3 separate regions of the Homo sapiens genome follow, and all the other regions are linked to region 1. Evidence: fine-mapped expression QTL. A gene starts in region 1. Each other region holds a variant in brackets. All regions are shown on one strand. Distances are between the middles of the regions.

What was found. PIP is the estimated chance that this variant, and not a neighbour inherited with it, causes the effect.
Region 2: its variant is fine-mapped to the expression of CAMKK1 in whole blood (TOPMed, PIP 0.97).
Region 3: its variant is fine-mapped to the expression of CAMKK1 in stomach (GTEx, PIP 0.97).

What each region holds. Positions count from the first base shown.
Region 1 is chr17:3,891,546-3,894,302 of GRCh38, forward strand. It overlaps CAMKK1 (calcium/calmodulin dependent protein kinase kinase 1), which reads right to left and starts at 1,508. Exons shown (of 16, transcript NM_032294.3): 1 at 1,394-1,508. RefSeq lists silencers at 815-1,064, 1,205-1,384, 1,415-1,954.
Region 2 is chr17:3,871,295-3,874,051 of GRCh38, forward strand. It overlaps CAMKK1 (calcium/calmodulin dependent protein kinase kinase 1), which reads right to left. Exons shown (of 16, transcript NM_032294.3): 11 at 2,115-2,168; 12 at 1,260-1,333. Among named protein-coding and RNA genes, the nearest start is that of CAMKK1, 20 kb to the right of the region's middle. The variant T/C (reference allele first, on the strand shown) is at 1,260.
Region 3 is chr17:4,056,914-4,059,670 of GRCh38, forward strand. It overlaps ZZEF1 (zinc finger ZZ-type and EF-hand domain containing 1), which reads right to left. Exons shown (of 55, transcript NM_015113.4): 31 at 2,258-2,377; 32 at 1,081-1,242. Among named protein-coding and RNA genes, the nearest start is that of LINC01975, 81 kb to the left of the region's middle. The variant C/T (reference allele first, on the strand shown) is at 1,647.

The sequences.
Region 1 (2,757 bases):
ACAGTGCTTGCTCAGTATGAAGAACAGCAGGGAGGCTGACGTGGCTGGAGTGGAGTCTTCCCCACATAAGAGGCACCTGATAGCAAGAGGAGTTACATCTGGAGAGAAAGCCCCCTCACTCATTGTGCTGGCCTCAGGGATGGCTTCCTAGAGGAGGTGGCACCTGAGCTCTCTTCTGAGCACTGAGCAGGATTTCAGGATGAGGCGAGGATGGAAGTTTGCACTGTGCATATAGGAGAGTCATTTCCTGGCTGGGACTCCGGGCTTGGTTTGGGGGTGGGGAGAGCTTGGTGGACAGAGCCCAGGAGGCCCCCAAAGCCAGGGGGAGGTTGTGAGCAGGGGAGTGCCTCGGTTAGGTGAGGTTTAAAACGACTCCCATGGCTGCTGTGAGGACTGACGGTGGGAGACCGAGGAAGAGGCGAAGGGTCCCCAGAGTGTGTGCGCCTGGGACGCAGTGGGGGGTCAATTTGTATGTACTGGAGGAAAGAGGGCAGGGCTTGGGGAGGCCAGCGCCACTTCCCTGGGATCCTCCAGCGCGCACAGGCTGTGTGCCCCTCCCACACTCCTGTGCCCGCCCTGCGGACACCACCAAGGCCCGGTCCTGTGGCCTGTGACACAGCCTTCTCTGCACAGCCCTGCAACGCCAAGACTTGAGCACACCCCCTCCCCTGACAGGCACACGCCCGTGTCCGCGTGACCCGCCCTCACACACCACTCCATCCTGTCCTGCACCCCCCACGCAGACACAGGCACACTCCCGCGTCCACGTGACACACGCACACCCGCCTCCAAACAGCACACGCAGGTCCCTGCGCACGTGGACACCCCCCCAGCCACCAGCCCTGCGCCTCCCGGGCCCCGAAGCCGCAGCGCCCGCCTCTGCCGCCCCCTCTCGCCCCAGCCAAGGCAGGACCCTGCGCAGCCTGAGCCGCGCGCCGCCGCCGCCCCATTCATCTCCCACCCCGCCCCCGGCTCCTGCAGGAAGACGCTCCGGCGGGCCGTGGGAGGAGCGCTCCGCGGAGAACCGCACGTGGGTGCCCCGGGCCGGGCCCACTCCGCACAGACGTGGCCTCCACCAGGAGCCGGGCGCGGGGGACAGTGCACCGGGGATGGATGCGGTCCGCAGACAGAAGCGGGGAAGAACGCAGACGGCGGGGCACCCGCGGCGATGCGGTCCCGGCGGCCGGCGCAGACCCGAGCAGACTCCGCGAGGCACCCCGCAGACCCGGCCCCGCAGACAGAAGGGGAAGGATCCCCGCCCTGACCAGATCCCAGCTCCCTCGTAGACGCGGCCTGGCAGACCCCCCCCGCCTCTCCCTTGCAGGCTCGGGGCAGGTGTTAAGGCGTTCGTCCTCCTGCTCCTCGCCCGCGTCCCCGCCCCGCCGATCCCTACCTGGGCGCCGGGCGACAGTGTCCGCGGCCCGGCGGGCGGCCCCACTCGCTCCTGCTGCGCGCCCCGCCCCGCCCCGCCCCGCCCCACCGCCTCGCTGGGGCCCAGATCGCCGAGCTCAGCCCGCGGGCGCCGCGGCTCCGGGCAGCGCTCGCTGCCCCGCCCACCGCCGCGCCCGGCCGGCGCTCATTGGTCGGAGCGAACGGCCCCGCCAGCGCCGCCCAATCGGAGCCCGGGACTCCCGCCCCCTCCTGGACTAAGGGACCGCGGTGGGCGGCGCGGTAGGGGCCCTCCCTCCCCTGCGGCGGGGCCGACCTCGCCACGCCCCCGGCGTCCTGGGGTCCCCGAAGTCCCTCCCGGCCGCGGCGTGGGCCCTTCTCCTGGGCCTGCAGGGGACCGTGCTTCCCCGCCAAACCCTTTGCGCCCCCATCCCGGCCTGCAGGAGCCAGAGCGCCCCTCCCTCCCGGGCGAGGCGCGGTGCGTGCGAGGGAGGGGCGAGGCCCGGGGAGGAAGGCCTTGAATGGCAGGCCCAGGAGTGTAGCTTCTGCGGGGCGGGGGCAGAGAGGCCGAGAGGTGGCTTAGCACAGAGTGAAGTGCTTGCTCGGTGAGCCGGCGACAGGAATGGCCTAGCGAGGGCCGAGGGAGTAGAGGGAACTCAGCAGGACAGTGAGGTGACCTTCGCTGTGGCTGTTCCTGGGGACTCTGCCGCCACCTCTTCCCCTAACGCCTCCGCGTGTGAATCCTCTGGCACCACCACTTGCCCCATATCCTTCCCCCAAATCTAACCTCCTGCGTCCCTGTCTCGAAGTGGAGCCAGGAGCCTGGGAGTCACCTGCTGCCTCCCTGTTTCCTGCTCCAACCAGTCCATCTCCAGGCCCTGCCATACTGCCTCTTAACTATCCCTGGAATCGGCCCACTCCTCTCCACCCCACTTCCCCTCCCTTAGCTCAGGCTACCACCATCTTGTCCCTGATTGCTGCAGCAGCCTCCTCCCTGGCCTCCAGCCCCATCCAGTCTCACCTCCTACTAGCCTTTCTCTCCCTGGCACCCAGAGCAAGTTTTCAGGAACACAAGTCCACCGAGAGGCATTTTCTATGGCTCACCGTGAGAATAGGTCTAATCAAGCCCTGTATAGCCTTACTCCCAGCCACCTGCCTGTTTAACGCCTACTCGTCTTTCAGGGTTCAATTCAATCCTACTTCTGCCTGGAAACCTTCTCCATGACCTCCCCACTTCCAGCATGGGTTAGTGGCCCCACCCAGGTACTTCCTTGTACCTGGCATCTGTTTACCTGCTGGTTCCTCATTGGGACTGGGAGCTCCTGGATGGCAAGCACTGTGCCTGATTCGTCCAGCACACAGCCTGTC
Region 2 (2,757 bases), 20 kb before region 1:
AGTCCCGTTTCATTTTCTTTTTTTGTTTGTTGTTTTTTGTTTTTTTTTTTTTGTTTTTTTTTTTTTTTTTTTTTTTTTGAGACAGAGTCTCGCTCTGTCGCCCAGGCTGGAGTGCAGTAGCACGGTCTCAGCTCACTGAAACCTCTGCCTCCCGGGTTCACGCCGTTCTCCTGCCTCAGCCTCTCGAGTAGCTGGGACTACAGGCACCCGCCACCACGCCCGGCTAATTTTTTTTCTATTTTTAGTAGAGATGGGGTTTCACCGTGTTAGCCAGGATGGTCTCGATCTCCTGACCTCGTGATCCGCCCTCCTTGGCCTCCCAAAGTGCTGGAATTACAGGTGTGAGCCGCCGCACCCGGCCTTATTCAGTTTCTTTCTTCTGTTTTTTTTTTTTGAGACAGAGTCTTGCTCTGTCGCCCAGGCTCACTGCAACCTCTGCCTCCTGGGTTCAAGCAATTCTCGTGCTTCAGCCTCCCGAGTAGCTGGGACTACAGATGTGCGCCACCACGCCTGGCTAATTTTTGTATTTTTAGTAGAGATGGGGTTTCACCATGTTGGCCAGGCTGGTCTCTAACTCCTAACCTCAGGTGATCTGCCCACCTCAGCCTCCCAAAGTGCTGGGATTACAGGCGTGAGCCACCGCACCCGGCCTCCATTTCACTCCTGAAATCCACTGCTGAAAAGAGGAGCCTGGGAGCTCAGGCTGTGGCTGCCACGGTGGCCGTCATGAGGCGAACCATGCATGAGCAAGAGGCCTCCCCGACGTCCCTGCTACGCTCAGAGACCTCGGTCACAATGGGAAGAGTGGGGAGGAAGAGTGGCTTGAGTCCCAGCCCCCTGACCGCTCTCCTCCAGAGCATCCTCTTTTCCATCTGTGAAATGGGGAGCACGCACTGGCATCTTGAAGTTCCCTGACCCTGAGTGGGGGAAGGAGAAGTTCCCCTTGAGTCCAGGGGCTGGGTGGGGCTGGCGCCACTGACCCCAGGCAGGCCTGCGGTGAAGGAGTGGTGTGAATGATGCCTGTGGTCATCCCTGGCCAACCCTGGATCTCAGGGTTCCCATCCACACAGTGACGTTGCGGAGACCCTTGGCTCCAGAGTCCCTCCCGTCCATCTATTCAGGGGTCCCTCCCAGGGAACAGCACCGCCACCTTCATATCTGCAGGCTGGGGTGGGGTCCTCAGAGGGCAAAAGCTCTGCTAAAACTCAGACACCAGGAGCGGGTGGTAGCCCCCTTGTTCCCCTGGGTGGACAACTCAC[T/C]CCTCAGGAAACACCACGGGCTCATTCTTGATCTTCCTGTGGAGGGCCAGGATGAAATCGTCGATGAATGGGCACTGTGGGGTGGAGAGGCAGACAAAGGATGTGGGTCCAGGGCCTCGACCTGTGCCAGGGGATCAACCCCCCTCCCTTGGTGGGGGCAGGGGTAGGGGGCAGGTCTGGGCTCCCATTACATGAGAAGGACCTCAACTCACACTGTAAATGTTCAACAAATGTTGACTGAATGAATGAGTTGCTGAGGGAACAATGAGGCTGGGTGCATCCACCGCCGTTACTGCCACCCGCGGCCAGGCCAGGCCAGGCTGGGTGCACCCACCACCATTACCGCCACCTGTGGCCAGGCCTCCACTCCCAGGGCCTGGGGCTTGGGAACATGTTCACTGAAATTCCCCCCTGCCCCTTAGTGTGGTCACCAGAGCAGGCACACCTGCGGGCAGGGATCACCGATACGTCAGCGTTGGGTGTCCCCAGGGTCCAGCCTCAGCCAGGGTAGGGGTGAAGGACAATTTGTCGAATAAATGAGCAAGGGAGTGAACACATGGCTCAATAAGTGAATGGCGTCAAGGGACAGAGGGACGGGGAGCACTCTGGCTGGGGCGGTGGCAACACCATCGTCGGCACCTCCCCTTAGGTGTCTGCTGTCCTGCGACTCCTTCGCGAGAATCGCTCCGCAGGGGACCAGAGAAAGATAGAAAAAGCCTCTTCTCTCTCAGCCTTCTCTGAGCCAGGTGGGCTCTTTCAAAAGCCACTTAAGGACAAAAAGGAAGAGCCTGCATCCGTCGCCCGTGCCCGCCTCACTGGACCCGCCCCAGCTCTGCTGGCATCCCTGGCACTCACCTTCCCATAGACAAAGCAGTACAACGTGACGCCAGTGGCCCATACATCCAAGGCCTGGAAAGAAACATGCTCACATCAGTCCCCAACAGGCACAGCCACCTCTGCCCACCCAGCTCCAGCGGGCTGCAGGAGAGGCCTGCAGGGAACCTCTTTCCTCTGTCATGCACTCACTCGACAAACACTCCGCGGTACTTGCCCGATGCTGGGCCCCGTGCTGAGTGCTGAGGACACAGGGGCGGCCAGAACAAGGCCTCCACCCTCCAGGGGTTCTGGATTTCCTTGGGAAAGACTCTAACCAGGTACGTTTCCAACTCAACAGGTACAAAACCTCCTTCATCCAGAGGGTCACACGGGCCGCTCCCGTGCCACAGACGCACCCCAGGAATGATGGTATATATGGAACTTCTGCTCACTAAACCAGCTCGGGCTTCAAGGAGTCATCCCTTCTCCTCATAATCCACCTTCTTCCTGATATTGCAAACAGCCCCTGCCCACACAGAGGCCCTGTCCTCTCACGCCCTCATCCACCGCCACTGCAACAACTCCTCTGGGCTCCCAAACACCCCTGGGCCTCCCCGCGCCCTGGACTCCAGCGTGTGCTCTCTCTACCTTCTGCTCCGGAACGCCACCTCTTCTGGTATCC
Region 3 (2,757 bases), 170 kb after region 1:
TATAAGTTCCTTTTGGATGCAAAATTGTAAATTTCCATAATTTCAGTTTACAGCTCGTTTTAACAAATAGAACTTTAAACAGAAAAAGATTTGCTTAAGAGCAAATACAAAATATTTACCAAGCTACAAATACACATTCATTCATTCATGCATTCCAACGAAATGGTTTTGGGCCTACACTCATACTCAAGCTTTGCGCTCGGTGCCACGGGGGCTTGCTGTAAAGGGCGCGCTTCCTTCCCTGAGGACTGTGGCGTGCGGGGAGACAAAGCGAGAAACCGCGAGCAGGCCCACAGCCAAGATCCACAGGCTCATGCCCCCTAGTGCTGCCCCGCCTCTGCCAACGGAGCTCCAACAGCGAGGCGACAGCTGAGGTTCGTGAACTAAAGAGACGGCTCTAATTCTGTCCCCTTTTCCCTTGGAACCGCTCTCCTGAGAGAGTGGAGACTGTCCTGGTGTTGACTCATTCACTTCTTCCCACTTCTCTCCTCTTAGTGCATTCCCCCTCCCCTTCTCCTCTTTTCTACACATGAATGGCCACGAATAGGGAAGTGGATTTGAGTAGAGTGGAGAGATACGGGCCAAATCGGAGGGAAAAAACCCTTCATACATGACTTTTTTCTAACTGAGGTCCTTATAATGTGCAAGAAGTTAGAGTGGCTAACATAACATATACATGTAACAAAAATTATGGAAAGGATTTCCCAATTCAGCAAGCTATACTAAGATCACCAAAATGCAGAGGATTCTCGGCCTCAGAGCTCACGAGTTCACCACCACCAATGTACATAGCTCTACTGCATGCCAGACGCGGTTCTAAACACTGAAATACATAACTCAGGTACTCATCACAACAAGCCTCGGAGGCAGCACCATTGTTATCTCCAGCTCTGAAGATGAGGAAACTGAGGCACAGAGGGATTATAAGACTTGCGCAAGGCCACTCGGCTAGGATGTGGCAAAGCCAAGATATGACACAGACAGTCTAGCTCCGGAGTCTGTGCTCTTAACGCCCCCACTATGTTCCTTGCGTTTCATAACCTACATTAGGAACTGCAGAGCGCAGGACCGTGCTCTTACCTGATCACACTGTCATGGACACTTATATTCTCCTGTGACATTTTCATGAGGAGATCTGGTAACTGAATATCAACAAAGAAGGCGAGATCATTGGGTTCCCAGCCCATATCCAAAAGATGAAGCAGGGCTGTCTGAACACAGGATAAGGCAGGGAGCAAGGACCTAAAGGGCCATGAAAGTGACCATTAGCAGAGCTGCTTACTCCCAACAGAGGCAACAGAAGCAATTCAAGTAGGTGACCTGGTTTGCAATTGAAAGCAGAAGGGAACTTCACATTGCTGGTTTGGGTTCCTTTCAAATTCCTCATACTCCACACAAACATCCTTCAAAGCTTACACAAAATAACTCTGAAAAGTGTAAAGTAAGGTTTCCACCCTGCCAGGACCACCACAGGGGTATCTTATGGTAAAGAACTGAGAAGTGAAAATCACTTTCTGATAAACTGCAAGATCAGGGCCAGCTCCAAATTAGCCAAGGTTATGCAGTTTAGATTTACCGAAGAATCATTTGATTTAAGGCTTATGTCTAAACCATTTACTAAGAGGACTGGGAAATGGCTTTATACT[C/T]GTTTTCAAACTGTACATAATACATAATATACTGGCTGGGCGTGGTGGCTCATGACTGTAATTCCAGCACTTTGGGAGGCCGAGGCAGGCAGACTGCTTGAGCCCAGGAGCTCAAGGCCAGCCTGAGCAACATGGCAAAATCCCGTTTCTACAAAACATAAAGAAAATTAGCCGGGCATGGTGGCATGCACCTGCAGTCCCAACTACTTAGGAAGCTGAGGTGAGTAGATCAATTGAGCCTGGGAGGTCCAGGCTGCAGTGAGCCACAATTGAGTCACTGCACTCTAGCCTGGGTGACAGCATGAGGCCGTCTCAAAACAAACCAAAAAATCCCTAATATACCAAAACAGAAAATAATAGGCTATAAATTCTTAGAAAAACCCAGACTCATCCCCTTAAAAAGAAAATATACACACCAGACAGAAAAAGGACTGGGAGAAAATATACGAATAAGTTAACATTAGTGATTAGCTCTCTAGGTGGTAACATTAGAGGTTATTTTTATTTTATTCTTTGTGCTTTTTGGTATTTTTGACAGTGAACATATATTTCTTTTATAATCAGAAAAAAATACATTTTTTTTCTCTAGAAATGATAAAGTTATCCAGTACCTGTCATTTAGGCTACTAAATCCTTTAACTGCTTTGACCAAAAACAGAACAAGTTGATAGTAAGTGTCTCGAATTTCTTTGTGTAGATCAGCACCACAGCCTTCCAGGTGTCCAAAATAACTAGAAACAGAGGAAATCACTGATTCACTTAATTGCCAGAACATCTTTTTCTTAATAATAATAATGATTTCTTACATGAAAAAGAGCAAGTGGCAGTCAGCTGAGCAAAGCGGCACAGGAACTTAAGTAAATACAAATATAATACCTATAGAAGGTAACACACAAAACAGCAAGTGAGTCCCTCTGACGGGCTCAAGAGAGTTACCCAGAAGCATGGAGATGAGATTATTTATCTTCTTTGTGAATATAAACCCATCCCTCCCACCACTACTTGGGTGCCAGATACTGTGTTAAGTATTTTTCACAAATGACCTCATTTGATCCTCTCCACACAATCACGCTCACCCCTCTGCCTCCCTTCATTGATGACTTTGGCACCA